2 separate regions of the Homo sapiens genome follow, and region 1 is linked to region 2. The links come from fine-mapping of genetic effects on gene expression. A gene starts in region 2. The other region holds a variant in brackets. All regions are shown on one strand. Distances are from middle to middle.

Region 1 (15,571 bases), 46 kb before region 2:
TTGATTATGGAGACTGGCAAGTCCAAATCTGCAATGTGGGCTGAGAAGATTAAGACTGAGATCTGAGAGGGCAATTCCAGTTTTAATTTTGAGGAAAATTTGACATAGTTAATGGTGCAGATAAAGTACAAAAGCGATCTAATGGAGATATTTCTCTTGCTCAGGAAGGCTGGCTTTTTTGTTTTATTTAAACCTTCAAATGATTGGATGAGGCCTAACCCGCAGTATGTAGGACAATCTGCTTACTCAAAGATTACAAATTTAAATGGTAATGTCATCAAAAAGAAAGAGCCCTCCATATTGATATAAGATTAACCCACAGAACCCTAATTTTAATGCCTGAAAATCAGGGGAGAGGGTGTCAGTCATTTGCTGATGTTGTTATAATGCAATAGAAGGCAGCACACTCAGTTTCTTTATTTATATTATCATGTTTCTCTTGTTTTGTGGTACTACAACGCTGGTGGGCTAACACTGGTGAGTTTTTTTGGGCCATGTATTCCATTATGTTCAAGATGACATAGGATATAAGGAATACATTTTATTACTGATTTGTTGGAAGACTTTCCAGGCAATCTTAAATTAGTTCAGGATGTCAGAAGAATCCTTAGTCAACAAAAAAGTCTGTGAGTAGAAACTTTGAGTTTGGAAAGGATGATGTAGACCCTATAGTGTGACAAGTCCTCCACTAGATAACTTAAAGGTGTATATCCACTGCTTGAGCACTGAAGGCCAGGTAGTGAGCCAAGGCCATGGGGACCAGCTGAGGAGCAGGTGTTTCTGAGAATGCAAACATCCTAGAGAGTATCTGAGAACATACCAAGGGAGAGTCCCATGATACACACATGGTAGGCAAAAAGCTGTAAAAGTGCTTAAAAGCAGCTTAGAGATGGGAGGTGATGTGGACTCTAACGCTGTCCTGCTGCCTCCTAGGAGGGTCCCACATGTAAGTCTTAACACACTTATCTACTTGCCAAGCTGGATTGGTCTGGATCATTATTTAGTCTCGGCTCCCTTCCAGATTGTGGGACAGGGAAATATTACAGTCTAAAATTTTTCTTATAACAGACCCATTTCCCCCTGCATTTCTCCACTAACTACAGCTATAAACCTTGAAAATCACACAGGAAGCCTTGAAAGGAGAGCTCTGAAAGGTGGTATGAAGAAGACAGTCTGCTTAAGGACTCCAGAACTGAAGGAATTGTTTTGTGGCAATGCATGTTATTCCCCTAACTCAACTGAGAAAAACAGAGACCAACACTTAGTGTTTTTCAATCCCCCAGATAACAAGAAAACACAGCCCAATAAACTTATTTCTTCCCTGATAGAGGACTTTATCCAACAACAGAAGACCATCTTGGCATGACCTCGGAGTAGAATCATTCAGAAGTCTGCTAACAATAAGAAGCCAGAGAATTGCCAGAAGAATATTGCCTTAAAGGCTCAATGGTCTCCACATCTTAAGGTTCACAAACCCATACAAGTAAAACAATATTTGGACATAAAATGCTAATATTCATGAAATTATTTAATAACTTTATATCTGAATTATTTTATTTTTATCCTCTTATATGATAGTTCATATACCCAAAAGAGATAAAAATAATAGAAAAGATTAAAATTTTAATATTTTCTTCTCTTACCACATGGGATATCCAGTTCATCACCTCTAATGTATGCTCTTCACTCTAAATAACTCTGATGTACTAATAAAAAAGTGTTTCTCCTACATCAGCATGAGCCCTCCCTCTCCAAGGAGACTCTGGAGGGCATTGGTGTTGAGCCTGGACTAGAGAGGACTATGTTTCTCACAGATTGGAGTTAACAAATAAAGTAAAAGATAGTCAGTTAAATAAATTTCAGATAATGAATTACATATAGAGTATCCAAATACTTATACTACAGAGTTAGTAGTTGTCTTTCTGCTTTTTAGATGTAACTGTGTGTCTGGTAGTTTTACTTGCTGAATCCATCAACGCCAACATGAAATAATCATAGGATCTGAAAACATGATGCAGACCTAGGAGAAAAGCAAAAGAAGAAAAATCCATAGAGGTCATATAGATTGGAAGGAGCATGGAGGAGAATTGGGTGCCATCTGATACCATACAAATATATGTATTTGAATGCACATCTCAGATTGCTCTGAACAGTGACAGTTTGTCCTCAGGCTGAGGGTGAAGCCCCTGGGTACTCTCAGAGACGGATAATGCAGAACAAGTTCATCTTCCTTATTCTCACTTTCATCTTAGCTTGTTTATGATATTGCAAGCCCAAAAGCTTCCATGCAATCATGGAAATGTCAGGAAAAACATCATCAAGTGAACCAGGAACTAAAAGCTAATCATAAAGTCTATGTGCTTAGATCAAATGTCTGAAAAAAAAAATGACTTCAAAGAAAGAAGCCATTTCCAAAACCAATGTTATTTTGTATTACAGAATGTTACCTTAGACAAAAATAAAGTTTTATAAGACTTATTTCCTCAGTTTTATAATAATAGCTATTGTTTAGTGTTGTATTATTATAACCAAGCCCCTTGAGATTTCAGCACCCCAGCATTTTTAGCGACTGAAATAATGAAATTTCTAATTAAACCTTTGCTTGCTTGCACAAAAGCCAGCATCCCTTGTTTCTACAATAAAATTATAAATTGTTGATATACTGTTGTCAAGCAGGAAGAGATAATTTTCTTTTTCAAGCAGGAGGGTCACAGAAACATTTTGCAGAAGAAATACATGCCTTGAAGGACATTGTTACCAGCTGTTGACACCGAGAAGTCTTGTTGGCCAAGATGTTATCTGAGACTGAAGAAATACACACTTTTCCCCTCAATTCCCTTAATCTCCCCCTTCCTTATCTTCTGGCTGAATAAACATCCCCTGATGCTGCTTTGTTTTTTCAGATGGATTTGAGAAATTTTCTCTCCTACATTCTTACTTTGGCCCCATTGAATAAACCTTCCTCTATCTCCAGGCACCGGTGACACTGTTTGGCCTCAGCTGTACATCACATTCATGAGCCAGGATTTGGAATTCTACATCATTTTATTAACAATATTATTTTAATAGTTACTTGCATTCTTCCTGACATATTTAAGTATAGCTATATATCACAAAATATCCTGTGTTTTATTAGTATAACAATCGAAAGCATCATATTCCTCATCGATTTTACCGTACTTTATAAATAGCATTGAAAAACATATGACTGCTCATCAATAGCACAAAGCGATTATGAGAACTGCAGATTACCTGGTTAGGTGAAGAAAAGGTTTTTTTCATTCAGTGGCAATAGTGGCAACCCAAGAAACACAGCTAGCAATATCAGAAAAGGGAATTGCCCTTCCTGGCTAATAACAGTTTTATTAAATATTTGTGTAAAATGCACAAATGGCAAGATAATAATTATGATATTTTAGATGCCGTCAAAAAACAGACATGCATCTACTATTCATTAAACAGAGTAAGATGCATCGCAAGTCATGGACACTCCCAATCTCAAGACATTTTATTCTCAGCTCATGTGAGAAAAACATGAGTCAGAGAAGGCAGCTGCAGAGGTAGGAGACAGAAAAACACTGGACACAAATCCTGAGCTACAAATTATTGGAAACTTTAAAAATCCTGTCTGCCAGTGCATGTTTCTGACCACGAAACCCAAAAAGATGAGGAAAATATAACACTTTTTCTTCCTAAAAGATTGAAAGGTCTTTTAACCTCATATTTTGGTGGATCACAGTAACAAGATTATAGTAACATGAACTACATCAAATATTACATCAGGAATGAAATGGAGGGTATGTCCTCTGTGCCCAGGAACGCTGATTAAAATTAGTCAAGACCCACGCTCTCAGACACTCCAATGTTCTCTCCTTGACTCTGTGGCCAAACCGTTTATGAGAAAGCCAAAAGAGGAATATGTTTTTGAGATTTCTTTCACAAGATTGTGACTATAGTTACGTCAACCTAAAGTCATCAGAAAGATTAGAATCTAAAAGACTTTATTTAAATACAAACATTTAGGATAGACTGCCTAGAAAAGCACAGATTTTAAAGAATGGAAGTCAGTATTCCAAAGTGTAGAATTTTAAGATCATTTAAACAAAATTCAAGAAAGTTTAACAGAATTTTAACATCTTTCTATGTAAGGTTTAATGTATAGTTATAATATTTTGATTAGATAATCAAATATTATCAATTTTTTGGAAAAGATATATTTAACATTCTAAACAAGGCAGGTTCTGGTGTCCCTGGAAGTTGTAGTTTTGATGTTAATGCTTGTTTACACTTATAGATTCTGCATTGACCACCAGAAGCTCCTCACACAATGGCAGCAGGTTGGTGAACAAGATATAAAAGATTCTACAGGCCCCAACCTGAGTGATCCTCCTGCTTTATAGGGTCTGTATTGATCTCTCATGATACAAGAAAGGTCTGCCCTGGATTTTCTGTAATCCTCAGACTGAAGGCTGGCCCTGTTTTATGAATCTCACGGGGAGGCAAATTCCCCTTGTGTGCAAATTCTATGAGGGATCGCATCTGTTCTGTATTCTTGGGTTTTACAGCAAGAAGAGACAAGAGGAAAAGAGATTCCTTCCAGGAAGGCTGCTATAGAGCATTCTGAAGAGCCCCAGATACTGCATTCAAAATTTAGTGGTGCAGATTTAGGTTCCCAGAGAGACAGGGAAGTGGAAGAGGCCAACTCAATGCGCAGGTACATGTCTGTGCTACCAGGCCCCATGTTCTCTGAATCAATTTCTGTTATAAAGTCCCCAGGTACATTGAAAGACAGGGCTGGAACGGATGATTGCCACTTTATGAGGTTATTTTATTACAAATCTTTTCTAACTATGCCCCAGATGAAACTGCAGAGCCCAAAATAGGCAGCAAGATCATACTGCATTCACATTTTGAGGGCAGGCAAGATCTTCACTGAACAATTGTGGCTTGGGGGAAGAAAGCCTGAAAGAAAATTTGATGGGTATCTGCCAAAGTCCCTTCTAGTATGAAACCTGATCGGTACCTTTTATGTTTATATTTGATCTTGTAATTCTGAACAGTGCTTGGGAAATATAATTAAAACAACATTGCCTCCCAACCTAGAATGCCTCCCCACAAAGGTAGAAGAGAGATAAAATTGTTTTATAACTCAAACCAGAATGTGATGTGCATCAGAAGCAAAACATGTAGTGTTTAAACATCACAGTCTGGTTTGAGTTATAAAACATATGTGTTGTCAAGATTAATATTAGTAGCCCTCAAGTAGGAAAATTTGACAGCACCATTTGGCACAGTTTATCCTAAATTCACCTGGTAACTAGAAAGATGATCTAGGTTTGATAACTGGCTTTATTAAAAGGAAAAATAGGCCGGGCGCGGTGGCTGACGCCTGTAATCCCAGCACTTTGGGAGGCTGAGACGGGCAGATCACGAGGTCAGGAGATTGAGACCATCCTGGCTAACACGGTGAAACCCCGTCTCTACTAAAAATACAAAAAATTAGCTGGGCGTGGTGGCAGGTGCCTGTAGTCCCAGCCACTCGGGAGGCTGAGGCAGGAGAATGGCGTGAACCCCGGAGGCGGTGCTTGCAGTGAGCCGAGACTGTGCCACTGCTCTCCAGTCTGGGCGACAGGGCGAGACTCCGTCTCAAAAAAAAAACCGGGGGGGAAAATAAACTTCCAACTTTTGTGACAGAAAATTGTTTTGCAACTTGGAATTAAGTGCCTGATAAAATTAGGCTTCTATCTTACTGCAAAATTGTGAGATCGGGTACTATCTTTTTTCGTATTTATATTTCAAATACATTGTTCCCAGGTCCTGGAGAAAAGTATTCGTGTGTGTGTGTGTGTGTGTGTGTGTGTGTGTGTGTGTGTGTGTGTTTTAACAAAGAGAAGCAAAACAGCCAGCTAAATGTCGGAAAGTTGCACATTTTGGAGACTGATTTAGTTGGCTAGATGGGCTTTTTAACGTAGTGTGTTTTTTAGATTACTGGCTTCAGGGTGGAGCCACTTAATAAATAAAGCAAAGGAAGCATGCAGTTTTTAGGGCTTAATATTTAAATATGTGCAAAGCAGGAGCAGCTGGAAGGCATAACACTTAGATTCTCCCAAATCAAGAATCCCATTTTTACATTGAATTCTGAGCCCCCAAAAGAAATGCCATGCCAGAGGACTGGGCAGTTCAATGATTCCATAGTGCACCTCAGTAGAGGGACATTCATTTGAGGTTGGTAGGCAATCCTATGCCAGCACACACTATGATTACTGCATCCCACATGGGTGTCTTACCCCTCGGTGGGGTGGCTTGGGGGCTGTTTCTGTAGCCTCTACATTCTAAACCATACTTTTTCTATCCAAACACCCAAAGAAATAAGCAACTCCCTAGAGTAATAAACATTTACTGTAAGCGACTGCTGTCAGCCCTCTAACACCATAGCTCTTGCCAGTGACTCACCAGCAATTACATCCACCTAGTCAAGTTCTCTCATAGTACAATGTAATCTCTGGTATCCCCCAAAGCCAAGGAGATCAAGTAATGCAATACAAGAAAGAGCAGAGTGTTAGACCTGAGAGGGATCTCTCTGCTTACAACTCTGAGGGCCTCATGAGAAAAAGCAGTTTCCTCCCAAGAGGAGGAGACTGTGACAACTTTTCTGTTTTCTGTGATTCTAGGCTAGAATTCTGTTAGAATTCTTTTTTTGGGGGGCGTTCCCCTCATGTGGCATTTGGAGTGGCAAGAGGAAGGACAGACAGAAGTAAATGGAGAAACAGAATTCATTTGACTTTTACAGAGAGAGGAGATCTTAAAACCATGCATATGTGTATGTACGTAGAGTAAATATCAGTTTTTATTAAGTCAACTTTGGACTATAGAGCTCTTTAAAAATCCTTTTCCTAACTGTAATTCCTACTCAAGTCATTATACTTTTGCTGCTAGCTGGACCTCTGTAGCCAAATGAGCAGCCATTACACCTTAGTCGCTGTTCAACACCCTTCCTCACTGCAGTGTGATAGACCACTCTCAGATAACAATCATGCTAATTCTGCCAGAAGTATCCTAACTAGAGGCCCTATCTTGAATAAAGGCCAGGTAAAGCCAAACCTATGGCCGGGCACAGTGGCTCGCACCTGTAATCCCAACACTTTGGGAGGCTGAAGTGGGCAGATCAGCTGAGGTCAGAGATTCAAAAACAGCCTGGCCAACATGGTGAAACCCTGTCTCTACTAAAAATATATAAATTAGCCGGGTGTGGTGGCGGGCACCTGTAATCCCGGCTACTCGGGAGGCTGAGGCAGGAGAATGGCTTACGCCCAAGAGGCGGTGATTGCAGTGAGCCGAGATTGCACCACTGCAGTCCAGCCTGGGCAACTCAGCGAGACTCTGTCTCAAGAAAAAAAAAAAAAAAATGCCAAACCTGCTGGATTACTTTCCGAGGGGGCTGGGCACTCTTGGTCACAAGATGTTTATGGTTGAAACACTGAGTTAATGATGTTAATCAACTAAATAAGAACTCAAAACTTAAGAAAATGTCCCAGTACTTTAAGAAAAAGCATTATTAGTTTAAGTATGTTTTGCTTTAAAAATAGTACTCATAAATTCTTGCTGAAATCAATAGTAACATAGAAAAGTAACAATACTAATAGCCTGTCATAAGCTGATTAGAATCCTCTGTAATAAAGTATACCATTCTTAATAACCTATATAACCATTTGAAATGGGTGCATTTCTCCTCTTGCTTTCTGAGGAAGGCCTACTCTAACAGAGGAGCTTTCAATAAACTATCTCTTCTCATTGCAAGGCATTCCTCTTCCTGCTTTCTGAGGATGCCCTACTCTGTAACTGAGTAGTCTCTAATAAACTTTACTACACTCTGCAACTCACCAAGAATTCTTTCCTGTGTGAGATTCAAGAACCCACTCTTGGGGTCTGGGACAAGATCATCACATCTCTTCTAGTGACTCTGCCAGGACTTGAATGAGGTGAAGTCCCAACTCAAAGGAATGAGGTCCCAACCCAAAGGAAACAGACTCTGCAGCACCAATGGGCTGACGCAAACTCTAGTTGTAAATTTTTGACAAATAAACCCTTACGACCTTCACCTAGTTTAGAAACAGAACATTTTCATCATCTTCAGAAAATTCACTCGTGTTTTGTCCCAGGCACCTATCTTTTCTTCCTCAGCCAGAGGCTATCAATGTGTTTATTTCACCATAGGTTTATTTTGCCTGAAATAATACAATACATAAATATACAAAACACAATTTTATGTCTACCTTTTTTCACTTACGAGGTCTATGAGATTCATATAGGGTGTGAGCTTTAGGCTGAGTTGTATTCTGTTATATGAATGCTATGCAATTAATTCAAACCACTGCTTTAACCCAACATCTTTTGGTGAACTACTTACAAACTGGCTCTCAAATGAATGTAAAACATTTGCTGCTAAGTTGTGGCCTTTCAATCTTACCTGCCTTATCTAATCATTATTAAGATAGTCACTATGAGAAAACTATTCTCCAAATTATTGAAAGTTTAAGTCCTCCAGCAAAAGGAATATTAGGGAAGACATTTCACTGTTAACCCATAGTATATTATTTCCATCTGTTAACCACAATCTTAGATAAGATGGAATAGTTTAACACTGGTGTCAGTACAACATTTCATTCATTGTACATCAGTGTTAAAACATGAAAAACCAACTCATTTTATTAAAAGAAATTAAGTTCACCCATAGTCTACAGCATTTTAAAATCCACTATATTCTTCCTGGTCAAAATACAGTTACAAGTACTCAAGAAGCATTCTTTTTTTCCAATATACTAATCTTGCAGTTCTGTTTTCTACGTTTTTTTAAAGTGAGGCTAATTATTTAGTGAATGTTGATAGGAATTATCTTCACATTTCCCTGATACAGGTGAAGATGTTATTCTCATCACATCAAATACTCAACTTTTTCACTATGTATTCTATCACATCAAATAATACTAAAGACTCCTACTTTATTCTGTTTTAAAGATATGTTAGTACTTCAACTCAGTGGTCCTAACCTTTTTGGCACCAGGGATTGGTTTCATGGAAGACAATTTTTCTACAAACTGGCAAGGAGAGAGATGGTTTTGGGATGAAAATGTTCTGCCTCAGGTCATCAGGCATTAGTTGGAGTCTCCTAAGGAGCACACAACCTAGATCCCTCACATGCATAGTTCACAATAGGGTTTATGAAAATCTAATGCCACCACTCATCTGAGAGGAGGCAGAGCTCAGGTGGTAATGCTTGCTCACCCACCACTCATGTCCTACTGGTGCAGCTCAGTTTCTAACAGGCCACAGACCAGTAACTGGTCTACAGCCTGGGAATGGGGACCTCTGCTTTAAATGAAGTCTTTTTAAAAAAAAAAAAAAAAAAAAACTTATGGAGGAATTGAAGTAATTTCAAAAATTCAGAATATCCCTCTTACTTTAATATAGAAAAGAGCTCTAAACACGTATATGTTTAC[A/G]TGCATTACTACTTTATTCAAACACAAAGAGCATATTTTTAAAAATTTTCATGTGTTTTACATTTGGCATTAAACTTCCATGAAAAATGCTGATATTAATGATATTAACGTAGAATGACCTCACATTGTTCTGATGCAGAAAAAAAAACAGAACACATATTTTCACATGAACACCACGGATTAAGGAAAAGCAGCAACAGATTTGAAAGCTGAATTATATAAATAATATTTGCTTTCCAAAAACCTCAAATACTGTAAATACAAATGAAGTATCTATGAAATATACCTGTCAAAACATCAATGTTCTTGCTACTTTAAAACATATAAGCAAATAAATTATCTAATTATTTTGCCTTTAGATTATTCTGTACAAAAAATACTCTTATTTAGTATAAAGGCTGAAAGTGTCTGTGCTTTAGTCCTTTCTCACATAAATTCTCTGACACATTTAGACTTCATTTTTTATTAAATACTTCCTCACATTTATTGCATCTGCAAACTTCCTTTTTCTATGAACCCCTAGGTGACTCATAAGTTTGATATTTTGAATAAAACTTTTCACATTTTTACATCTATAGTGTTTCTCTAGTATGGATTATCTTGAGTAAGGGTTGAGCACAGTTTAAAATAATTTGCCACATTTTTAATATTTGTATGGATTTTTTCAGTTTATATTCTCTGCTATTGTGTAAGGCTTGAAAATAGTTAAAGGTTATGCCACATTCTTAACATTTGTAGGGTTTCACTCCCATATAAATTATCTGATGCACAATAAGACATGGGTAACAAGTAAAAAATCTGCTCCATGTTTTACATTTTTAAAGTTTTTCTCTAGTATGACTTCTCTGATGTGCAATGAGGTATGACCTAGAGTTAAAGGCTTTGCCACATTCTTCACATTTGTAGGGTCTCTCTCCACTATGACTTCTCCGATGTGTAGTGAGGTATGACCTATAGCTGAAGGCTTTACCACATTCATCACATTTGTAGGGTCTCTCTCCAGTATGTCTTCTCCGATGTGTAGTGAGGTATGACCTAGAGTTGAAGGCTTTGCCACATTCTTCACATTTGTAGGGTCTCTCTCCAGTATGACTTCTCTGATGTGTAGTGAGGTATGACCTATAGTTGAAGGCTTTGCCACATTCTTCACATTTGTAGGGTCTCTGGCCAGTATGAATTCTCCGATGCTGAATAACATCTGAACTATAACTAAAGGCTTTGCCACATTCTTTACATGTATAGGGTTTCTCTCCAGTATGAGTTCGCCGATGCACAGTAAGACCTGAGGAGTCACTAAAAGATTTGCTACATGCTTTACATTTGTATGGTTTTTCTCCAGTATGAATTCGATGATGTCGAATAAGGTGTGAACTATAAGGAAAGGCTTTGCCACATTCTTTACATTTATAGGGTTTCTCTCCAGTATGAATTCTCTCATGCACAATAAGATTTGAGAAACAAGTAAAAGGTTTAGCACATACTTTGCATTTGTAAAGATTTTCTCCAGTATGAATTTTCCGATGTTGAGTAAGGCAAGAACTACGGCTAAAGACTTTGCCACATTCTTTACATTTATAAGGCTTCTCTCCAGTATGAACTCTCTGATGCATAATAAGATTTGAAGAACGAGCATAAGATTTGCTACATACTTTACATTTGTAAAGTTTTTCTCCTGTATGAGTTGTCTGATGTTGAGTAAGGCATGAACTACGGTTAAAAGCTTTTCCACATTCTTTACATTTATAAGGTTTCTCTCCAGTATGAATTCGCTTATGTTTAGTAAGGTATGAACTACAGCGAAAGGCTTTGCCACATTCTTTACATTTGTATGGTTTCTCTCCAGTGTGAATTCTCTGATGCACAATAAGATTGGAGGAACGAGTAAAAGATTTGCTACATGCTTTACATTTGTAAAGGTTTTCTCCAGTATCAATTTGCTGCTGTTTAGTAAGGTATAAACTACAGTTAAGGTTAAAGACCTTGCCACATTCTTTCCATTTACAGGGTTTCTCTTCGGTAGGAATGATCTGATGTTGAGTAAGGTGCAAACTATGGTTTAAGCTATCCCCACATTTTTCACATTTGTATGGTTTCTCTTCATTATGGATTATCTGCTTTCTAAGATTTGATGACTGACTAAGATCTTTATCATATTTGTTATAGCTATATGAGTTTTCTCTGATATGGATGGTCTGATGTTGAATATGTTTTAATGACTGGGTACAAACTTCTACACATTTATTACATTTGTAAGACTGTTCTTGTTTCTCTTGCCCATGCATACTCTGAAGAAAGACTTCCTCAAATTCTTTACATTTGTATTGTTTTTCTAGAAAATAATTTTCCTGATGATTTTTAGGGCTTGAGCTTTGGTTCAAGGTTTTTTCAGAATTATTGCAATGATAATTTTTCTCTCCAATAAAAACATTTCGGTAACTATTTAGAGTAGAGACCTGCCTAAATAACACTGAAGTTTTATCATATATGTGATGTTTTCCCCAAATATCTATTTCCTCTTGTTGATTAAGCAATGATGAATGAGTAAAGACCTTCCTATATTGATCAAAGTTATAGCTTTTGGCACAAGAAGAAAGTATTTGCTGGTGAAACAAACTTTCAACAGAGGATTCATCAAATTGATCATATTTAAAAGTCTTTTCATCATAACATCCATTGTGCCCTTCACACTCCTCCCTTTTCCACCTTTTTCTTAAATGTAAATTCTCAAGATCACAGCTCCCATGTCTCCTCGATATCACTTTTTGGAATGAAGCTTCTGTGCAGTGCTCTGTCAACAGGTCCTTGTTATAATGCGAAAACACATCTGAAAGATATAAAAATTTTAAGAATTCCAATTACTATATTCAGGTACATATATTTTACAAATCTAATATACAAAATTATGCTAAGTTGAGAATACAACAACAGTTGAGTGAAAAACCTGAGGCCGTGTTTTCTCAATTGATATACAAACTTTACTACAATAAAGTGGCACGTGAACTACTAAGACACCAACAGTGAAGGAAAGGGAGTGCTTGTGCCACCTTGCCCTTGCCCCTCAGCAGCATCTGCATGGCGGGGAGAAATCTGTTCATTTGGGAGACGGAGAGCACAGTGACTAGGGGACTACAATGAACCCAGTGCTGCCCTATCACAGCAGAGACCTGGCAGGATTCATCACCTTCTGACTTAGGAGCTGCTGGTCTCTGAATAACCTACAGTGGTACCCCAATAACACATCATGAACATTGGACTCCGAGATGTGCTGGCTTCAGGTGTGACCCAGAACATTTCCCACTGTGGTGGGTATAGTGAAAGACACCTTCTGTTTGAGCAAAGCAGAGGAAAAAGTAAATGGGATTCTGTCTTGCACCTGAGGTACCAGCTTGGCCACAGTGGGGTAGAGCACCAAGCAGACTCTTAGGGTCCCTGAGTCAGCATTTCTGGACCTGCCCTGCACCAAAGAGTAAGTCCCAGTTGTGGAAGCAGTCATCATAAGCTGACTGAAGAGTGCTTGGGTGTTGAGTGAACATCAGTGATAGCCCAGTGGAAACCCCTGTGGGCTGGTGGTGGTGGCAGACACATTGTGAGGCTCCTCTGCCTGCAGAAAGGGGAGGGAGGAGTGGTAAGGATGTTGTCTTGTAATTTGAATGCCAGCTTAGCTGCAGTAGAATAGAACACGAGATAAATAAGGCTTCTGACTTCAATACCTGGCTCCCACACAATATCTCTGAACCTACCTGGGGCCAAAGGGAACTCACTGCCCTGAGGAGACACAAACCTGGCTGGTTACCACCTGCTGATTGTAGAGGCCTAAGGTCTTGAGTAAACTTAGGTGGTAGCCAGGCAGTAATTACACTGGGCCTTGGGTGACACCCAGTGCTGTGCTCACTTCAAGTCTAAATTAGCACAGTCCCAGTGGTGGGGGCAACAGGGAAGCTTATGTCATCCCACCCCAGCTCCAGGTAGCTCAGCATAGAGAAAGAAATTCCATTCGTCTGGAAGAAACTAAGGGAAGAGAACAAGAGTCTCTGCTTGGTAATCCAGATAATTCATCGATTTTAACCAAGACCAACCACATGGTACCTCTATGAGTCTGCAAGAACAACGTTATTGAGTTTGAGATCCAAGTACCTTCAAATTCTGGAAAGCCTTCCCAACAAGGGTGGACACAAAGCCCAGACTGCGAAGGCTACAATAAATGCCTAACTCTTCAATGCCAAGACACAGATGAACATCTACACATTAAGACCATCCAGTAAAATATGGCCTCACCTAACAAACTGAATAAGGCATAAGAGGCCAATCCTGGAGAAACAAAATAAGTAACTTTTCAGACAGATGATTCAACATAGTTGTGTTGAGGAAACAAATTCAAGATAAAATAGAGAAGGAATTCAGATTCTATCAGATAAATCAAACAAAGAGGTTGAAATAATTAAAAGGAATCAAGCAGAAATTGAAGTTAAAAAAGCAATTGGCATACTGAAGAATGCATCAGTCTCTTAATAGCAAAACTGATCAGGCAAAAGAAAAAATTATTGAGCTTGAACATAGGCAATTTGAAAATATGTAGAGAAGACAAAAAAGAATGAAGTATGCCTACAAGATTTAGAAAACACCCTGAAAAGGGCAAATCTAAGAGTTGTTAGCCTTAAAGAGAGAAAGAGACAGGGGTAGAAAGTTTCAAGAATACGATCAGAGAACTTCCCAAATCTATAAAGATATCAATATCCAAGTACAACCAGGTTACAGAACACAAAGCAGATTGAACCCAAAGACGACTACCTCAAGACATTTAATAATCAAACTCCCAAAAATTAAGAATAAAGGATCCTAAAAGCAGCAAGAAAAAAGAAACAGCATACAATGAAACTCCAGTACGTCTGGCAGCAGATTTTCAGTGGAAATCTTACAGGCCAGGAGAGAATAGCATGACATATTTAAAGTGCTGAAGTAGCAAAGCTTTTACACTAGAATAGTCTATCCCGTGAAAATATTCCATAGCCATGAAGGAGAAAAAAATGACCTTCCCAGACAAACACTGAGAGATTTCATTAAAACCAGACCTGTCCTACAAGTAATACTAAGGGGCATTCTCTTCCATCTGTAAGAAAAGAATGTTAATGAACAATAAGAAGTCATCTGAAGGTACAGAACTCATTGGTAATAGCACAGAGAAAAACTGAGTATTATAATATGGTAACTGTGGTGTGTAAAATACTCAAGTAGAAATACTCAATGATGACTCAATACAACTACAACAATGTTTCAAGACAAAGACAGTACAATAAGACATAAAGAGAACCAACAAAAAGTTGAAAAATGGGGAAGCAAAGTTAAAGGTAGAGTTTTTACTAGTTTTCTTATTGCTTATTTGTTCACTTAGGCAATCAGTGTGAAGTTGTCAGCAGTTAAAACAATAGGTTATAAGATAGTATTTGTAAGTTTCATGGTAACCTCAAATAAAAAAACATACAACAGACACAGAAACCAAAAAGCAAGAAATTAAATCATACCACCAAGAAAAATCATGTTCACTAAAATGAAGACAGAAAGGAAGGACAAAAGAAAGAGAAGATGCAAAAACAAATAACAAAATGGCAGGAGTGAACACATACTTATCAATAATAATGCTGAATGGAAATGCACTAAACACTCCAATTAGATGACATAGAATGGGTGAAAAAAAGAAAAAGGAAGACCCAATTATCTGCTGCCCACAAGAAATACACTTCATCTATAAAGATACACATAGACTGAAAAATAAAAGAATGGAAAAATGTTCCATGCCAATGAAAACAAAAAAAAAGAACCAAAGTAGCTATACTTACATCAGATAAAATATATTTCAAGATAAAAACTGTGAAGACAGAACAAATGTCATTTTATGATAAAGGGATCAATTCAGTCAGAGAATATAACAATTTTAAATATCCATGCACCCTACACTAAAGCACTGAGACATAGAGTATTAGAGCTAAAGAGAGAGGCCCCAATACAATAATAATTGAGACTTCAACACACCACTTTCAGCATTGTACAGATCTTACAGATAGAAAATCATGAAAGAA
Region 2 (15,571 bases):
GATCCAGGATCCAGATATGTTATTACCTATACCTGATCAGCTGACTCTTGGGTACAAGAAAGGACAAGATTACCCTACTCCAGTAACACAGCTCACAGGTAGGCATAGCTTTACTCATGGCTCTGGACAGTGGTGGCCCCACCCTCCCTCTGCTAAGGTGCTGCTTTACACTTACAGATTCTGCCACGAGATTCTGTTTATAAAAAGGAACCACTCACAGAACTGCTGTAGCTCACTGGACAAGGTCTTGAAAACTCTGAGGGCCTCACTCCAAAAGTAGGGCTTTACAAAGTCCATGTTGATCTCTCACAATGCAGAAAATGTCCCCTGGATTTTCTATATATCCTGAGTCCAAAGTCTGGCCCTGTCTTGTGGATCCCAGGTGGAGACCAGCCTTTATGTGCAGACCCCAGGTGGAATCAACCTGGCTCTGCAATTCTTGTGTATTGCTGTGAAGAAAACTAGAGGAGACAGCCCTTCAGGAAGGCTGCTCTCACACATCCTGGAGAACCTCAGGACCTGGGTTCAGAATTCACAGCTGCAGATTTAGGTGCTGGTGGCGCAGGGAAGTGGCATGCACCTTCTGCACATTCATGGGCATTTGGGCAAGAGGATGAAGGGAATGTTGAGATTCTCCGGCCTGCTCAATGTATGTGTGTGCCTGGTTGGTTTCCAGCCCCCATGGTCTCTGAATCAGTTTCAGGTCTGAAGATGCCAGGGGCATGGAAAGACAGAGCTGGAATGGCTAACTGATGCCCTGTAAACTTATTTTTATAGAAATCTAGTCAAACTATTCTAGAAGCGACTGAAGATCCCAAGTAAGCAGAAAGACCATTCTGCCTGCAGATTTTCGGGGCAATGGGCACTTTGCTGCACAAATGTGGGTTGTGAACAGAAATCAAAGAGGGAAAGGACCCACTGGAGTGAAGTCTTACAGGCATCGTACAGGTTTATATTCTGTGTAGTAATTCTGGGCAATGTTTGAAAAATATAATGAAGAAGAAAATCATAAAATCATCTCCAACCCCAGAAAAACTATCCATAGTGGTAGAAAAGAAAGAAAACTGTTTTATGACATAATTAGCCCAGAATGTAAAGGAATGATAGGCAACCTGCTAAGAGATTAGAAAAATACCCACTGGTGAAAAGTCACCATAATTAGTCCTCAATAGAAGACCTGACAGCACCATTTGTCAGAGAGAGTTCATCCTAAATTCACCTGGGAATTGGGAGGCCATCTGTGTTTTTTAATTGGCTATAGTCAAAGGAAAAATAAACTTCATGTCTTTATGACAGGCAGATTTGCAACTTGGAGCCAGGTGCCTGCCCTCCTAGAGAAACTGTAGGATATGGATCTATCTTCTTTGCTATTTACATTTTATATCAATGATTCCCAGTTCCTAGAGAAAGGCAGTACTGAGTCAAAAAGACTGACAAATGGCCTATTTAGCTGTTAAGAGTGATTTAGACAGGTTGTAAAACAGAAAAATAATTTACATATGAAAGTTTTCCAAAGTAAATGCTTTAAGAAAAAAAAAAAGAAAAATTTCTTTCCTTATTTTCAAGAAGGATTAAGTCTTGTATTTCTAATTTGTATTTGCTCTTACAACAGCCAGATCTAGCGCCATGGTCTTGAGCTCACAGACATCTGAGTTCCAATAGGTGCTGGATTCAGGCACCTGTGGGGTGACCTTGGGAACACCGTGTACACATAAAGAAGGGGCTTGTGGGGAAGTAAAAGGCAGAAGAGAGGAAGGTGCTATTGAGCCATGAGCAGGGGGCAGTACCAAGTTGGTGGAAGGACTGGTTTGTGCTACAGATACTGGCCCAGGTGGGACTATGCTCTGACATATCCCTGGGTCCACGCAGGCAGATGAGATTATGATTGGATGGTCCACAAGCCTAGGTTGATGGAGAAACTAGGCTGCTGCTACGGATTCAGTGTCTGGGATTACAACAAGCCAGGAGTCCTCAGGCACTTGTGTGGGTTTTTGGCAGGAAACCGGAAGCAAAGGTGCTGTGGGTGCAATTCCTGACAGTCAAGCCTTCTCCTGGGATGGACGGGGACATGTCAATGCCTAGTTGGTATGTTCAGGAGTGGGTGGGAATCATGTGGTGGCAGCTGGGTCGGGGAGGGGGTCTCTTCTCAGAACTCCTTTCCTCTCAGTGTTCAGTCCCTTCTCACCCTAGCAGGAGACCTGGAATCAAAGGACAATGCACAGTGGGGCAGCCTGTGTGCAGAACACAGCCTCTCTTCCCACAGACACTTGGGAGTCTCTCTCCAGCCCAGGCCTCTGTGAGGTCTGTCTTCTGACATCAAATGTGTAGAGTTTGCTGAACACCAACCAATCCTCCAACATCAACTGGGTGCCAAAAACTTAATTCTGACACCACGCAGAGTCAGCGCAGGCCCCACAAGTTCTCGGCTCAGTCCCACAACACTGCCCCCACTTCAGATGCCAGTCACAATGCCTGGGGCCCTATCTATACTTCCAAGCTACTGCCTGTAAATCGAGGGCACCCATAACCCTATCCTTAAGTTCAATCATTTCAAAGATCTACTCAAATAACTCAGCAAATCACTTTACTTATGTTTATCAGGTTATCATAAGGATATAGTTCAGAACAGCCAAATGAGATAAATACATACAGGGCAAAAAAAAAAGTAGTGGGAAAAAATAGGAACAGTAACCTGGTAAATAGCTGTGATTAAAGAAATCCCCCATCTTTTGTGTTTTCCAAGAACAGCCTACTGCAAAAAACAACCCTATTATGACTTCGATGATGCTCCCTGATTTAGTCATCACAAAGCCACAGACTCTCCAAATTCCCCTTCTGACTCAGCTGAACAGCTCTGTCTTCAGTGTTCAGAATAAACTACTTAACAAAACTTTGTATTTTTCTCCAGGTTGCTGGACTTTGACACACTCACAGCCTGGTCAACATTCAACCCCTCCCTAAGCCCCTCCTAAGAACAGGCTGACATCAGAGTGAAACATTCTCTGATCTCGAATCTGATTTTGGCACCTTAATCCTGCCCTTCCCCTCCTACCTTCTGAGCTTGTTTGCTCCTCCCTGTGAAAGAAAGTCTTTGTCTGCCTAACCTTTGAGATCCACAAAGATCTTACAGCTGTTGCTTTCCCCCTATTGCAATACTCCTTTAGAATTAAGGAACTTCTTACCTAAACCTGAATTTGTTTTATTTGACAAAATCAAATAAAATGTGGGGAAGGAACTGGAAACTTAATATTTTACTGCAAGCCTCAGTCTGGGGGAACACAGTGGTAGATTTGAGACTCTGCGTGCCACACATTAGGAAAACACAGGGGGAAAACCAGTTGTCGGGTGGGGGGAGTGTTAAAATGATTAATGAGTAGGCGACTATATGGAAGTGGTTGTAGTGCCCTGGGTTTCTGGGAAGAAAAACCAAAATCAGGACAATCACAATTTCTACCCTCAGAAAGAGCCTCCCAACCCTCCTTCCATCCCAACCCCAAATGCCTCTTTCTGTGGATTTTCAGCTTTCAGCTTTCCAGGGCTCTGTAGCTTCTCAGTATAAAGGGCTCCTTCCATGGATGGGGTGAGCAGGCTGGGAAACCTGCAGGGGAAACTCCCCTGGAAGAACTAACTGGGCTTCAGTGACCTCTTCTTGCAGGCTCAAGACCAGGTTAGTTTGCACTCTCTGAGCTCAGGCTTCTGCTTCCCAGTCAGGGTTATTCAATTAGTATTCAATGAGAATGCCCAGTGTTGGAAGAAAGCAAAACTACTCAAACAGTGTTTATAGAATAAAGGAAAGTGAAACGCCTTTATAATTTATACCTCAACAGAAAACACTAAAGTATCTATCCCTTTCAGACAATAAATAGGCCACTTACTTATTTCCATGATAACAGATCATTTAGTAAATAATCATATATAAACAATTCTAGCCAGTGCTACGTTCAGCATTAAAGCCATACATCCAAGGCCAGGCATGGTGGCTCATGCCTGTTATCCCAGCACTTTGGGAGGCCAAGGCGGGAGGATCACTTGAGCCCAGGAGTTTGAGACCACTCTGGGGGCAACACAGTGAGACCCACATCTTTACAAAAAGAAAAAACAAAATAGCCAGCCATGGCGCAGCACCCCTGTAAGTCCCATCTACTTGGAAGGCTGAGGTGGGAGGATCACTTGAGCCCAGGAGGTTGAGTGAGCTGTGATCACACCACTGCACTTCAGTCTGGGTGACAGAGGAGAGATCCTGTCTCCAAAAACAAAAAATAAAAAATAAACTCAACATCCAGACAAGAGGATAAAGAACAAAGATATCCACTGTCATAACTTCTTCACCCTACAAAAAAAAGAAACTGATGTTTTGATGAAACTATGTAATTCACCAATTTACCACACGTTGTTGTGAAAATGTATTCACTTTCTACAGCCAATAATGAAAGAAAGATTTTCTCTGTTTCTTTTCCCTGGCAGCATTTCCAAAAGGTGAGCCCTGAGATTCTGTTTTAAATTACTCCCAAAAAAAGAACAAACCTGAGAAACTTACTACACTCATTCTGCTGAAAAAAAAGATAGTAAGAATTTTTAACAATGAAGTATGACTTGATATTTTAATTTTCTGAAATCCACCTTTCATGGCCTTGGAAATGTTTTTTATCTTTCAAGCTCTACTGATGAAATTTACACTAACTGAAAAACTGAAGTAGAAATAAATGAACAATCTAAGGCAGCAAACTCAGGGAGTGGTAATGCTGTTGGAATACAGACATATCTGGCTCAAGTGTCAAGTCAGGTCACGGTATCATTTGAGACATTCTCCTACCCCAATACTGCTCATTAAAATGCTCAGGGACCATCCTCCCAGATCCTGCACTGTGCCCCATGGACACCGCAGCCGAGTTTGCACCACCTCACTGGGGTGGGGTTTTTGTTTTTTGGTCCTTTGGGAGTTTTTCTCCCTTCACAAATCTGAATGAATCTAGGGGGCAGGAATCATTTGTGACTGTTTCCCCTCAATACCAGCAAACGATTGGCTGACCAGCAATGTGTCTCCAAGGGATGAAAACTAGCTTTGAAGAAATAAAATCCTTATGTCCCAAGGGGTTATCTTTTTAGGTTAAGGGTGTCCCAGGAGATTTCTCTCAGCCCCAGGGCATCCAGCTGCTCCCCTGAGGGACTACATTTCCATACCTTGGGCGGTCCTCTAACAGGAGGTGACCTGGGGCTGACAGTCACTAAACACTCCAGGAGACATGGCCACTGTGGGCATCTTGAGTCATCCCAGACAGTTCTGAAATTCAGGAACAGGAAAAGACTGGATAGAGGGTGGCTATACAGGGCCCTGTAAAGTTTCCAAAGCAAAACCTCAAGTCAAAAGACATTCTTTCCGATAACGTGTCTGTGCCTGGGGAAGATGAATGAAAAAGAGGCACAGTTTTTTTTGCAGTGGAGTGTCAGGGATTTTTTATTCTCTGCTTTCCTCTCACGTGAAATGTATGCCAAAAAAACACAAATCTTTAAAAAAGTGTCATCCACTGCTCTGTGAAATCATGATTAATGAGTAAAATACTGTCTGAAATGTACAATAAATGACCAATAGTTAAGAATGTGAACTGGAGAGGGGAAGTTGGCCTTTGGAAATGTCGGGAAGGAACTGGAAATTTAATATTTTATTGCAAGCCCAGTTAGACTGGGGGAACACAGTGGTGGACTTGAGACTCTGCGTGCTACACGTTAGGAAAGCGCAGGGGGAAAACCAGTTCCCCTGGGCAGTGTTAAGATGATTAATGAGCAGGCGATTATACGGAAGTGGTTATAGTGCCCCAGGTTTCTAGGGAGAAAAACCAAAACCAAACTCAAATGCTTTTCTTGTAAATTACAACTTTAGGGGAAAACAAAATTCAGACTTAACGAACCACAAAGCTCCAATTCACCTCCACCTGCATAGTCTAAATAAGGCAACTACAAACTGTAACCCATCGGTTAATTTGGTCTGCTTCCTCATGCACCTTATAAAAACCTTTCCTTCAAGCCCCTCTGGGGATCTCCGAACCACAAACCAGGACTGCAGGCTTCCCATGTCACAAATCGCTATTTGCTCAAATTCTTCAACGTTTTAACAGTGACTCCCTTTAATTCTTAAGAGGAGTAGTGACTGAGGACCCCACAGGGCACGGTTTCTTCCCACACACCGAACCTGGGTCTCCCCTGAGACGCTCCCGTCCTCACCGCACAATCTGGGGGAGACGCGGGGCTGCGACGCGGAGCTGCCCAGAGAGGGCTCCGGCCAGGGACGAGGTCGCTCTGCGGGGTCGGGATGGGACAGGACACGCGGGGTCCCGGCTGCCGGCCTGGCCGCCATCTTGCAGCGGAGGGGACCGAGGGCCGAGCTGCACCAGTTGGGACTCGGGGCCCAGACCCCGAGGCTGACTGCGGGGAGGCCCGGGTGCCCCTACAGCGGGTTCCCGCCGCTTCCGACCACCGCCCTCCCTCCCTCTGGGGACCCCCGACCCCGCACACTCACCATTTCCCAGCTTCCGGGATGCCCTGGCGTCTTAGCTACGAATCTCCCAGTGCCTGCAAGTCGCAGAGCAACAGAGGTTCTGTTTATTCTCAGAACGCGAAGCCGCCTGGGCCTCCCAGAACGAAAGACTCGGAGCTGTGGCGAGGAGACCCGAGCTCTAACTGGAGCCGACGAAGGCCCCCGCCAAATCCCGGAAGCCGCCCCTGCTCTCCGGCTTCACTCCTGATTGGACGGTTTCCACTCCAGCGCCCCTGATTGGATAAAGCTCCATGCCCCGCCCCCTCATTATTAGTGCCTTTTTTTTTTTTTTTTTTGAAAGGGAGACTGGCTCATTGAGGTGGGGCCGCCTGCTGCGGGTATTACAGCTAATTAAGGGGTGAGCTGCGACTTGAAATACACTTGCTCTTTCCCTTACCTGGTTCTGCTTGTATAAGACATCTTATTAGCTAATTAAGTTTAAGAAGAAGTATATTTAGACACCTTTAAAGCAAGAAAGACCCTCATCCCGTCCCTTAGCACCTCTCTTACCGCACTGTACCCCACTGCTAACGCCACCGTGGGAGGGGGCCCCTCAGCTGGGAACAGAAGGCCGTACACTTCATTCACGTGTTTTCAATTAGGCCCTCGCATGATACATAGACTGAACCAGTGCAAAAGCATCTTATAGGGGCATGCAGGCTGGGGTCCCAGGAGGATGTTGCGGGCCGTGGTGGAACGTGGAAGAGGGGCTGGCCTATTCTTCTAATCTACAACTCTGCCCGCATCTCCTGGAGTCTGCATCACTGGTAACGGGGCCGCTGACTGTCCGTCTGTCTCTCCTTCTCAATCCCTTCAAGCTCAGGGAAGAAGGGTCCTTGGCAGCGACAGGGCTGGGAGCTCAGTTCCTCTGGGCCGTGCTGGCTCAGGCTCTGTGGCCACGGACTCCTCAGCCCTACCTCTGGTTTTTGCTTTTGTTTTGAGACAGGGTCTCACTCTATTGCCCAGGCTGGTGCAGTGGTGCAGTCATGGCTCACTGCAGCCTCCGGGGCTCAAGCAATCTTCCCACCTCAGCCTCCTGAGTAGCTGGGACTACAGGCACATGCCACCATGCCCGGCTGATTTTTGTATTTTTTGTAGAGATGAGGTTTCACCATGTTGCCCAGGCTGGTCTCCATCTCCTGAGCTCAAGCGATCCTCCCACCTTAGCCTCCCAAGTAACTGGGGCTACAGGTTAATAGTCAGTTCGCCAACTCCTGAGCTCAAGTATTCTGTCTGCTTTGACCTGCCAGAATGCCCTATTCCTGTTTTTCTGGAGTCTTGGAGCTAGTGGCGCTGCAGCACCTCGTAGTCTTCCGGCTGAGTAGATTCTCCTAGTCTTCTGGCTGAGTAGAAGGTGGGAGAGGAGGTGGGTGTCAAACTGGGCCAGGGCCCTCGGCCGCCATCTAGCTTGGTTAAACTCCCACTTGGGACAGATCAGGCTCTGTGCCTTATTCAGTGAGACGTGTGGAACAAATGCTTCCCTCCCCAAAGCAGAAACATCCCTGATTGCTGACAGTCAGGATTCCATGCACTTGTCTTGGCCTGGGGCATGGCTGCCTCTCACCCTCTCACCCAGTTCTAGTCGCTGCACTCTGTGGCCTCCCTGCCACCAGATTAGGTGTAGACAACGGGTGTGGGACAGGGCTGCTGACACCACTGGCTGACCAAACCCCTTTCCCACACTGAAGGGAGAAAAGACAGGAGGTTAGGGGCTCCCAAAGGCAGCACTGCTTGTGACAGCACCACGGGAGTCCTTAGGGCCTACTAAGGGGCTGGGCTGGAACTCAGGATCAACTCTGCCTGACTCCAAAGCCCATGCACCTCCATGGACCTCACAACTCAAGCAGCTTCCCTAGGCCTTTGAAATCCTGGAGATTGACTCTTTTGCGATAGAAGAAAGATTCCTTTTGATTCTCATCCTTCTAGTACTCTTCACAATTGGAAATAATCCCCACCAGAGAATGCTTCTGAAATGTCTTGGAAACATGTAGAATAATTTGGGAAAATGGCTGAAGGCTGAGTTTAAGAAATCAAGGCCTAACATTCTATTTTTCATTTCTTATAGGAGAGATTTGAAAGCACTTATAATGGACTCAATGTGTCTGCAAATTATTTTTGTCCCCTTTCAGTATTTGTAAGCTGTTGATGATTTTCAATACAGATTAACTCAAACTACTGTGACTGAAACAATCTTTTACTCTGAAAGCAAGAGATACAAAGGTATATCTGCTGAGAAGACATTTTTTTCTGCCACAATTTAGCCAAACAGCTGAGTACGTCTTAAAGTCAGCCTTTGATTTCTAACAAGTCAAGCTATTTGCCAAGACCACAGTCAGACCATATGACTTAACTACTTCATTGTCCCAGAATGTTGACCAGACAGATCGAAGCTCTGGGGGTGGAGTGGTGAGAGGACCCACGCTAGCAGGTGGGCAGCCATGGGTCCATATGTGAGAATCACTCATTAGGTGGGGTGTTTTGAGGTCCTGATATTTATGACACAATTAATGTGTATATTACTAAAAGTAAATTATAGAACATTACAAATAATAAATCTATATATAAACTAAACATGTCAGCAATTACAACTACTGTTATTTATCATTATTCTAAGTGTGATCATCATTATTACCACAATTAGAAATAGTAGTTGTGGATGCTGCTGCTGCTGCTGTTGCTGGAGGGATGGTGATAAAAACAGCGAGTAAGGCTCTGCTGCCTCCTTCACCTGCGGCATCGGGAGCTGCTGGCTCACTAGTTTGGTGCACACTCTGGACTTCTTTGGTGAAGCTGCAGCTGAAGAGCCTTCAGGCTCCGCTATGGCAGAATTTGAAGGTGGCAGGTAGGATGGTCCCAGGATGCAGTTGATGTTGAAGAGGTGCACACCACTTAGTGAATGAGTGAAAGCCTTTGGTGAAAGGCAGAGTTTCTACATGACACAGATCAGATTCCATTTTGACTGGGGCCAATCAGTGAAACAGACACATCTGCAGAACTGGAAATGGAGGACAAAGATTCAGTTGATGTGTTCCAGAAGCAGACAGGAGGGTCTACTGAGAACATACTCACTGCTTTACTCCAGAACTCTGTTTCTACAGACCAAGCAGACATTCTCACGTAGAAAATTGCAATATGTTTCCATCACATCTACTGGTCCAGCATCCCTTTCTCTCTTCTTCACTTTCCTGTTCCTCATTCCTTTATTGTACATAAATTATCGGGCGTAGCTGTACAAACATATTGATAATTTTTGTTTGCTTGTTTGTTTGTACTGAATGAACAACGATCATTGATTTCCAATGGCCATTGAGTCATTGGTGTTGAGTGATTTCCAATGAAGACAGCTGAGGGAAAACACTGTTTCTGTGAAAAAGACTCTCTTTCTCCACCAGGGACTGCTCACTCACTGTTTATCTCTATATTCCAGGACTTTAACAACAACAGTATAAAAAATATAGTGATCCTTTAGGTTTGTTGGGGGCAGGAAAAAAAAAGGGGGAATAACCTTTGCATACATTGTTCAATTAGAAAATTTTATTTTTAAAAATATATCATTGTAACGCTAAGAACAATTTTATAACTTTTTAAATGTAGCGGTTACACATAGAACAAATCTGTCCTCACACAGGACTAAGTGACAATTAAAAGAACAGAACGGATTCCAGATATGTTCTTCTTCAAATCCAGGATCTGGTTGTTTAAATACACATCTTGTGTAAAATGAAAAGAAAACATTTAATATATAAATAAAAACAGGAAGTAAAGTTTCTCTAGCCACCAAGTGTGTTGGTTGGACTGAAAATGAGGAAGAAGGGGTTTCCGTCTGCAATAAGTTTGAAGTCCCCCCAGGAGCCAGGGAACTGCCCACACCCTCTAAGGCTGCCCCCTCCTCTTCTGCCTGGAGCAGGGTGCCTGTGAGATTTCCATGCCCTGACCCAGGAGGTACATGGAGGGTGAGAGGTTGTCTGTCTCACACCCAGGCAGACATCCCTGGTCCAGGGCCCTCTGGAAGATATTCCCAGGGTCTCCGTAGGCTGCCAGGGTCACACCCTTCCAGAAAAGTTATATAGGTAAATTAACCCAAGAAGGGGTCAGTCCATGGGTGATACCAAGCCACATTGCACCCTGGATAGAGGGCAACACATCTCATGCAACTGCAAACTACAGTAAAGCTCTATCTGCTGACAAAACCTGAGAGGAAGGAAATGAGACATCCTCCTTATGCTTTGAAGGAAAAAACAACAGGCTAGAAGTGGTTGACTCACGTGTTCATGACTGCCATTGTCAGGGTAAGCTGAGAAGTGCATGAGCTCAGAAAAGGACTGTGCCACATGACAAGCTGGAGGGGGTGTGACAGGAGAGAGAGGAAGATGACAAATAGACTATGGGAAGCAAAATGGAAGTTCCGCTTCATGGAAACATAGTACATTCTTTCCTCACAATGAAGAAAAAAGGAAGAAGAAAGAAACTTGACTACAGGCTTTATTTTAAAAAGAAAAAATATATTCTATAACAAAGTCCTAATTCATCTGTGGGTGGTGTATCTGTGCTTTCATGCAATGATTGGATGAAACCTGCTACCAGCACATCAATCCAATTGGCAACAGCATTCCAAAAAAATAAGAAAAAAAATAACAGGGTGTGTACTCTCACTAAAGACACCTGAGAAACTCTATTTCCATGCATTACCATGAGAAGAAAAAAAAATTACCCAGATTGAATCGGGGACAGGACTAATCACTCCTGGGATGAAATACATGCAAATAGATTAAAATGGTGCTTGTGGTGCATGCGTATGTGCATGTGTGTGTACTGTGGTGTGTTTGCCACTGAGTACGAGAAACGTTGCCTGCTTGAACTAAAGGAAATGCTTAGTCCTGTGGAATCCAGAATCCTCCCACCTAGTAGGTGGCTCTTCAACCTCAGGTTTCAGTCTCAGCTCCTTTGAGAGCAGCCACACAGCAGACCAATTGCCGTGAGTGGGGGACTTCGTGGAGGATGCCAAAGGTTTTGTTGGGGGCTAGGCCCTAATTTGGGAGAATTCTGTGAAAGAATACATTCCCACCCACATCCGGGAGCTAAGTCCTCATTTGGGCTCCAGAGGCAAAGTGGTCACTTCATTTCTCACCCCTCTGCTTTCTTCCTCACTCTGAAGTTGGCCACCAGGTGGCGGCAGAAGATCAAAGATAATATCACTAGAACCAGAGCAGGCTGACGGTCTTTTCTTTTTTACTGACAAATAATAATTTTATGTATTTATGGGATACAATGTGATCATTTTGATATACGTATACATTATGGAACGATTCCATCAAGCTAATTAACGTATCCATCCACTCACCAATTTATCTTTTTTTGTAGTGAGAACATTAAAAATTTAATTTTGCAATTTTGAAATGTACAATACATTATTAACTGTGCTCACCGTGCAGTGCAATAGGTCGCTTATTCCTCCAGTCTAACTAAAGCTTCGTATCCTTCCATAAATTACTTCTTTTTCCCTATCCCACCCTTCCCCCTGACACAGCCTCTGGTAACTACCTTTCTAGTCTCTATTCTTTGTTTCTGTGAGATCAATATTTTTAATTCCACAGCTAGGTGAGATCATACAGTATATGTCTTCCTGTTCCTGGTTTATTTAACTTAGCATAATACCCTCTAGTTCAATCCAAGTTATCACAAATGACATAATTTCCTTCTTTATAAAGGCTAAATAGTACTCCATTGTGTATATACACATCTTTATTCATTCATCTGTTGAAGGACACTTAAATTTCTTCTATATCTTGACTATTGTCAATAACGCCAAAATAAACACAGGAGGGCAGATCCCTCTTTAATAGCCTAATTTGAATTCTTTTGGATATATACCCAAAAGTGGAATTGCTGGATCATAGGATAGTTTTTTTTCTTCAATTTTACTTTAACTTCCAGGGTGCGTGTGGGGCATGTGCAGGTTTGTTACATAGGTAAACATGTGCCATGGTAGTTTGCTGCACAGATAAACACATCACATAGGTATTAAGCCCAGCATGCATTAGCTATTCTCCCTGATGCTCTCCCTCCCCCATCCCCCAACAGGCCCCAGTGTGTGTTGTTCCCCACCATGTGTCCATATGTTTTCATCGTTCAGCTCCCACTTAGATGCAAGAATATGCAGTATTTGGTTTTCTGTTCCTGTGTTAGTTTGCTGAAAATAATGGCTTCCAACTCCTTCCATGTCCCTGCAAAGGACATGATCTCATTCCTTTTTATGGCTTCATAGTATTCCATGGTGTATATGCACCACATTTTCTTTACATGGGATACTTTTATTTCTAGGTTTTTGAAGAACTTCCATACCATTTTTAGAATGGCTGTACTACTTTACATTCCCACCAATAGGGTACAAGGGTTTCCTTTTCTCCACATTCTTGCCAACACTTGCCTTCATTGGTTTTTTTGATAAGAGACATTCTAACAGGCCTGGGATTACAGACATTACTCTCTTCTATTCTCATTTAAGTGGTCAGAATGGTTTATTTAAAGTCTTTAAATGACCTCGAATTCTCCCATTGAAAACGGTTTCTTATGGTATTAGCATAATTTCAAACTACTCATCAGAATGATAACGTGCCATGTGAGATGACATGGGGTGGGGAGAGCAACTGAGAGAGCTGCAGCCAAAACACAGACAAAGGAGGAGAAGGGCTGGGATGCCTGTGGAGCTTGTGGTGAAACTTAACAGAGAGGAACAGGGGAGAATCAGAAAATGAAGCCAGCAGAATTCTTGCACCACAGATCAGTGCTGCAGCCTGGGAGCAGGTATCCTCTCTTCACATGTAGAAGCATCACCTGGATGTTGCAGTCTTTTGCCTGCAGATACAATTTCACTCTAATAGGACCATTTCTTAGCCCCACCGCAACCTCTGAGGAGGCAGAGAGGCTGAAAGTTAAGTTAATCACCAATAACCAATGATTTAATCAATCATGCTTATTTAGTGAAGCTTGCAGGAAAGCCCAAAATGAAGGGGTTCCTAGAGCTTCTGGATAGCTGGATACATGGCAGTTCCTGGAAGGTAGGGTGCCCACACCAAGAGAGGGCCCTGAAGCTCCAGGTAGACGTTGTCAGAATCCAGTTGAATTATACAACACCCAGCCAGTGTCTGCTGCAGAATTGGCTGTTGATATAGAGAAATCTCCATAAATTTTGGTGACCAGAGGTCACAGAAGTATTCTGTATTGATTGTTGAGTGAGGAAAAGGAAATACACTTCGGCTGATTTATTTTTTCTTTTTTGAGACGGAGTCTTGCTCTGTCTCCTAGGCTGGAGTGCAGTGGCGTGATCTCGGCCCACTGCAAGCTCCGTCTCCCGGGTTCATGCCATTCTCCTGCTTCAGCCTCCCGAGTAGCTGGGACTACAGGCACCCGTCACCACGCCTGGCTAAGTTTTTGTATTTTTAGTAGATACGAGGTTTCACTGTGTTAGCCAGGATGGGCTGGATCTCCTGACCTCATGATCCGCCTGCCTCGGCCTCCCAAGGTGCTGGGATTACAGGCATGAGCTACTGCGCCTGGCCTCGATTTATTTTTTCTATATCTCTCTGAGTTCGAAAAGTGAAAAATAAGGTGGGAGTGTGTATATATTAATGACAAAACTTGTTCAAGAGAAAGATGTGTCAAACTGGCATCTACAAAGAAGTAAAATGGTTTTGATAAACTCATCCCAAGAAATGCGGAGAAACAGTTCTAAGAAACACGTTCTATTGGAGCAGGCCATCGCGTTTGTGAAAATCTCCCTGTGTAATATTCACATGCAGCCTGGGTTGACATCCATAGCCTTAGAAGAACAGAATTCTCTTTGTCATGAGCTGCTCTAAGGGCAGGGGTGACCTTTGTCTTTCCTCATCTTAATGTACCACAGGGAGGCGAGGACTTCAGTAAGTGGGATTCACAGCAAGGTGCAGATTAGAACTCCCTACAGAGGGTTTCACCATCCTGTGAGGTCCCATCCCAGAGATTCTGATGGGGTGACCCAGCTTAGGGCCCAGGCATCAGCAGGCCTGAAGCCCCCAGGGGGCTCTGATGCACCACCAGGGCTGGGAAGCTGACCCCCAGAGGGTCCAATGCCCAGGGAACTTTTTCCCCTGAGATAATGAGGAGAGCTTCATGGACGACTTGGGGCCTGGGGCAGAGGACTAGTGTGTGACTGAGGAGCTCTTCTTAAGATAGACTCTGGAGGGGTGCATGGGTTCTATACTAATGTGTTTTTCAAATGTGTTTCAGGCTATTTCTCTTCTTGATGATATGTCAGGAAATGCTTGTGTTTAGCTTTCGAGCTTAGGGAAATTCATCAAACCTAATGAAAATTGTTTCCATAATTTTCATGTAAATAAAAATGATTTCTAATTTCATGATAGAATGCTCCAAGAAGTCTGTTTTCATCTGGCTGATAGAAGTAAAAAGACATTCTATTTTGTCTTTTTTTTTTTTTTTTTTTGGTGTATATGGAAGTAAAACTACTACTCAGATTTCTTTGGTCATACATGAGGAAAAGACAGGAAAGAAAAGATCTGGGCTGTGATGGGAAGTGGTTTCTACCTGTTTTTCTGAGGGTGTGGCTTCACAAGAGTTAAATCACACACACCACTACAACAATTAGTACCAGTGATCCTTTTTTAAGGTAATAAAATGGAAAATACCCCATGGACACAAACATGTTCAAAAGGTTTTTTTTCCCCTCAGGTCTATTTCCACAGTCATAAAAAGAGACAAAATGATTATATGATTGGACTGCTAACTCCATTGGACATTCTGTAACTCACTCAGCCACTCATCCCCCATAGAGGTGAGAGGAACAGGCAGTAGGTTTTATTAGTCATGTTACAGTCATAGTAAACAGATGTTTTAATGACAGCTTATTTGAGCTCCATTGATCCTTTGAATCCATATGAAAAAGCATGCCCATATGTGACCACATTCAGGTGCACTGGGAACCACAAAGAAAGAAAAAAATATTTCCTCCAATGTTCATTAATTGAGATTTTAAAGTGATGCTTC

What was found.
Region 1: its variant is fine-mapped to the expression of ZNF267 in blood mononuclear cells (TOPMed, PIP above 0.99).

What each region holds. Positions count from the first base shown.
Region 1 is chr16:31,911,226-31,926,796 of GRCh38, reverse strand. ZNF267 (zinc finger protein 267) reads right to left here. Exons shown (of 4, transcript NM_003414.6): 4 at 9,440-12,321. The coding sequence ends at 10,316. Among named protein-coding and RNA genes, the nearest start is that of ZNF267, 45 kb to the right of the region's middle. The variant A/G (reference allele first, on the strand shown) is at 9,498.
Region 2 is chr16:31,864,913-31,880,483 of GRCh38, reverse strand. It overlaps ZNF267 (zinc finger protein 267), which reads right to left and starts at 6,677. Exons shown (of 4, transcript NM_003414.6): 1 at 6,515-6,677. The coding sequence starts at 6,517. RefSeq lists enhancers at 1-440, 2,601-2,890, 1,893-3,092, 6,562-6,856 and silencers at 6,396-6,475, 6,626-6,675.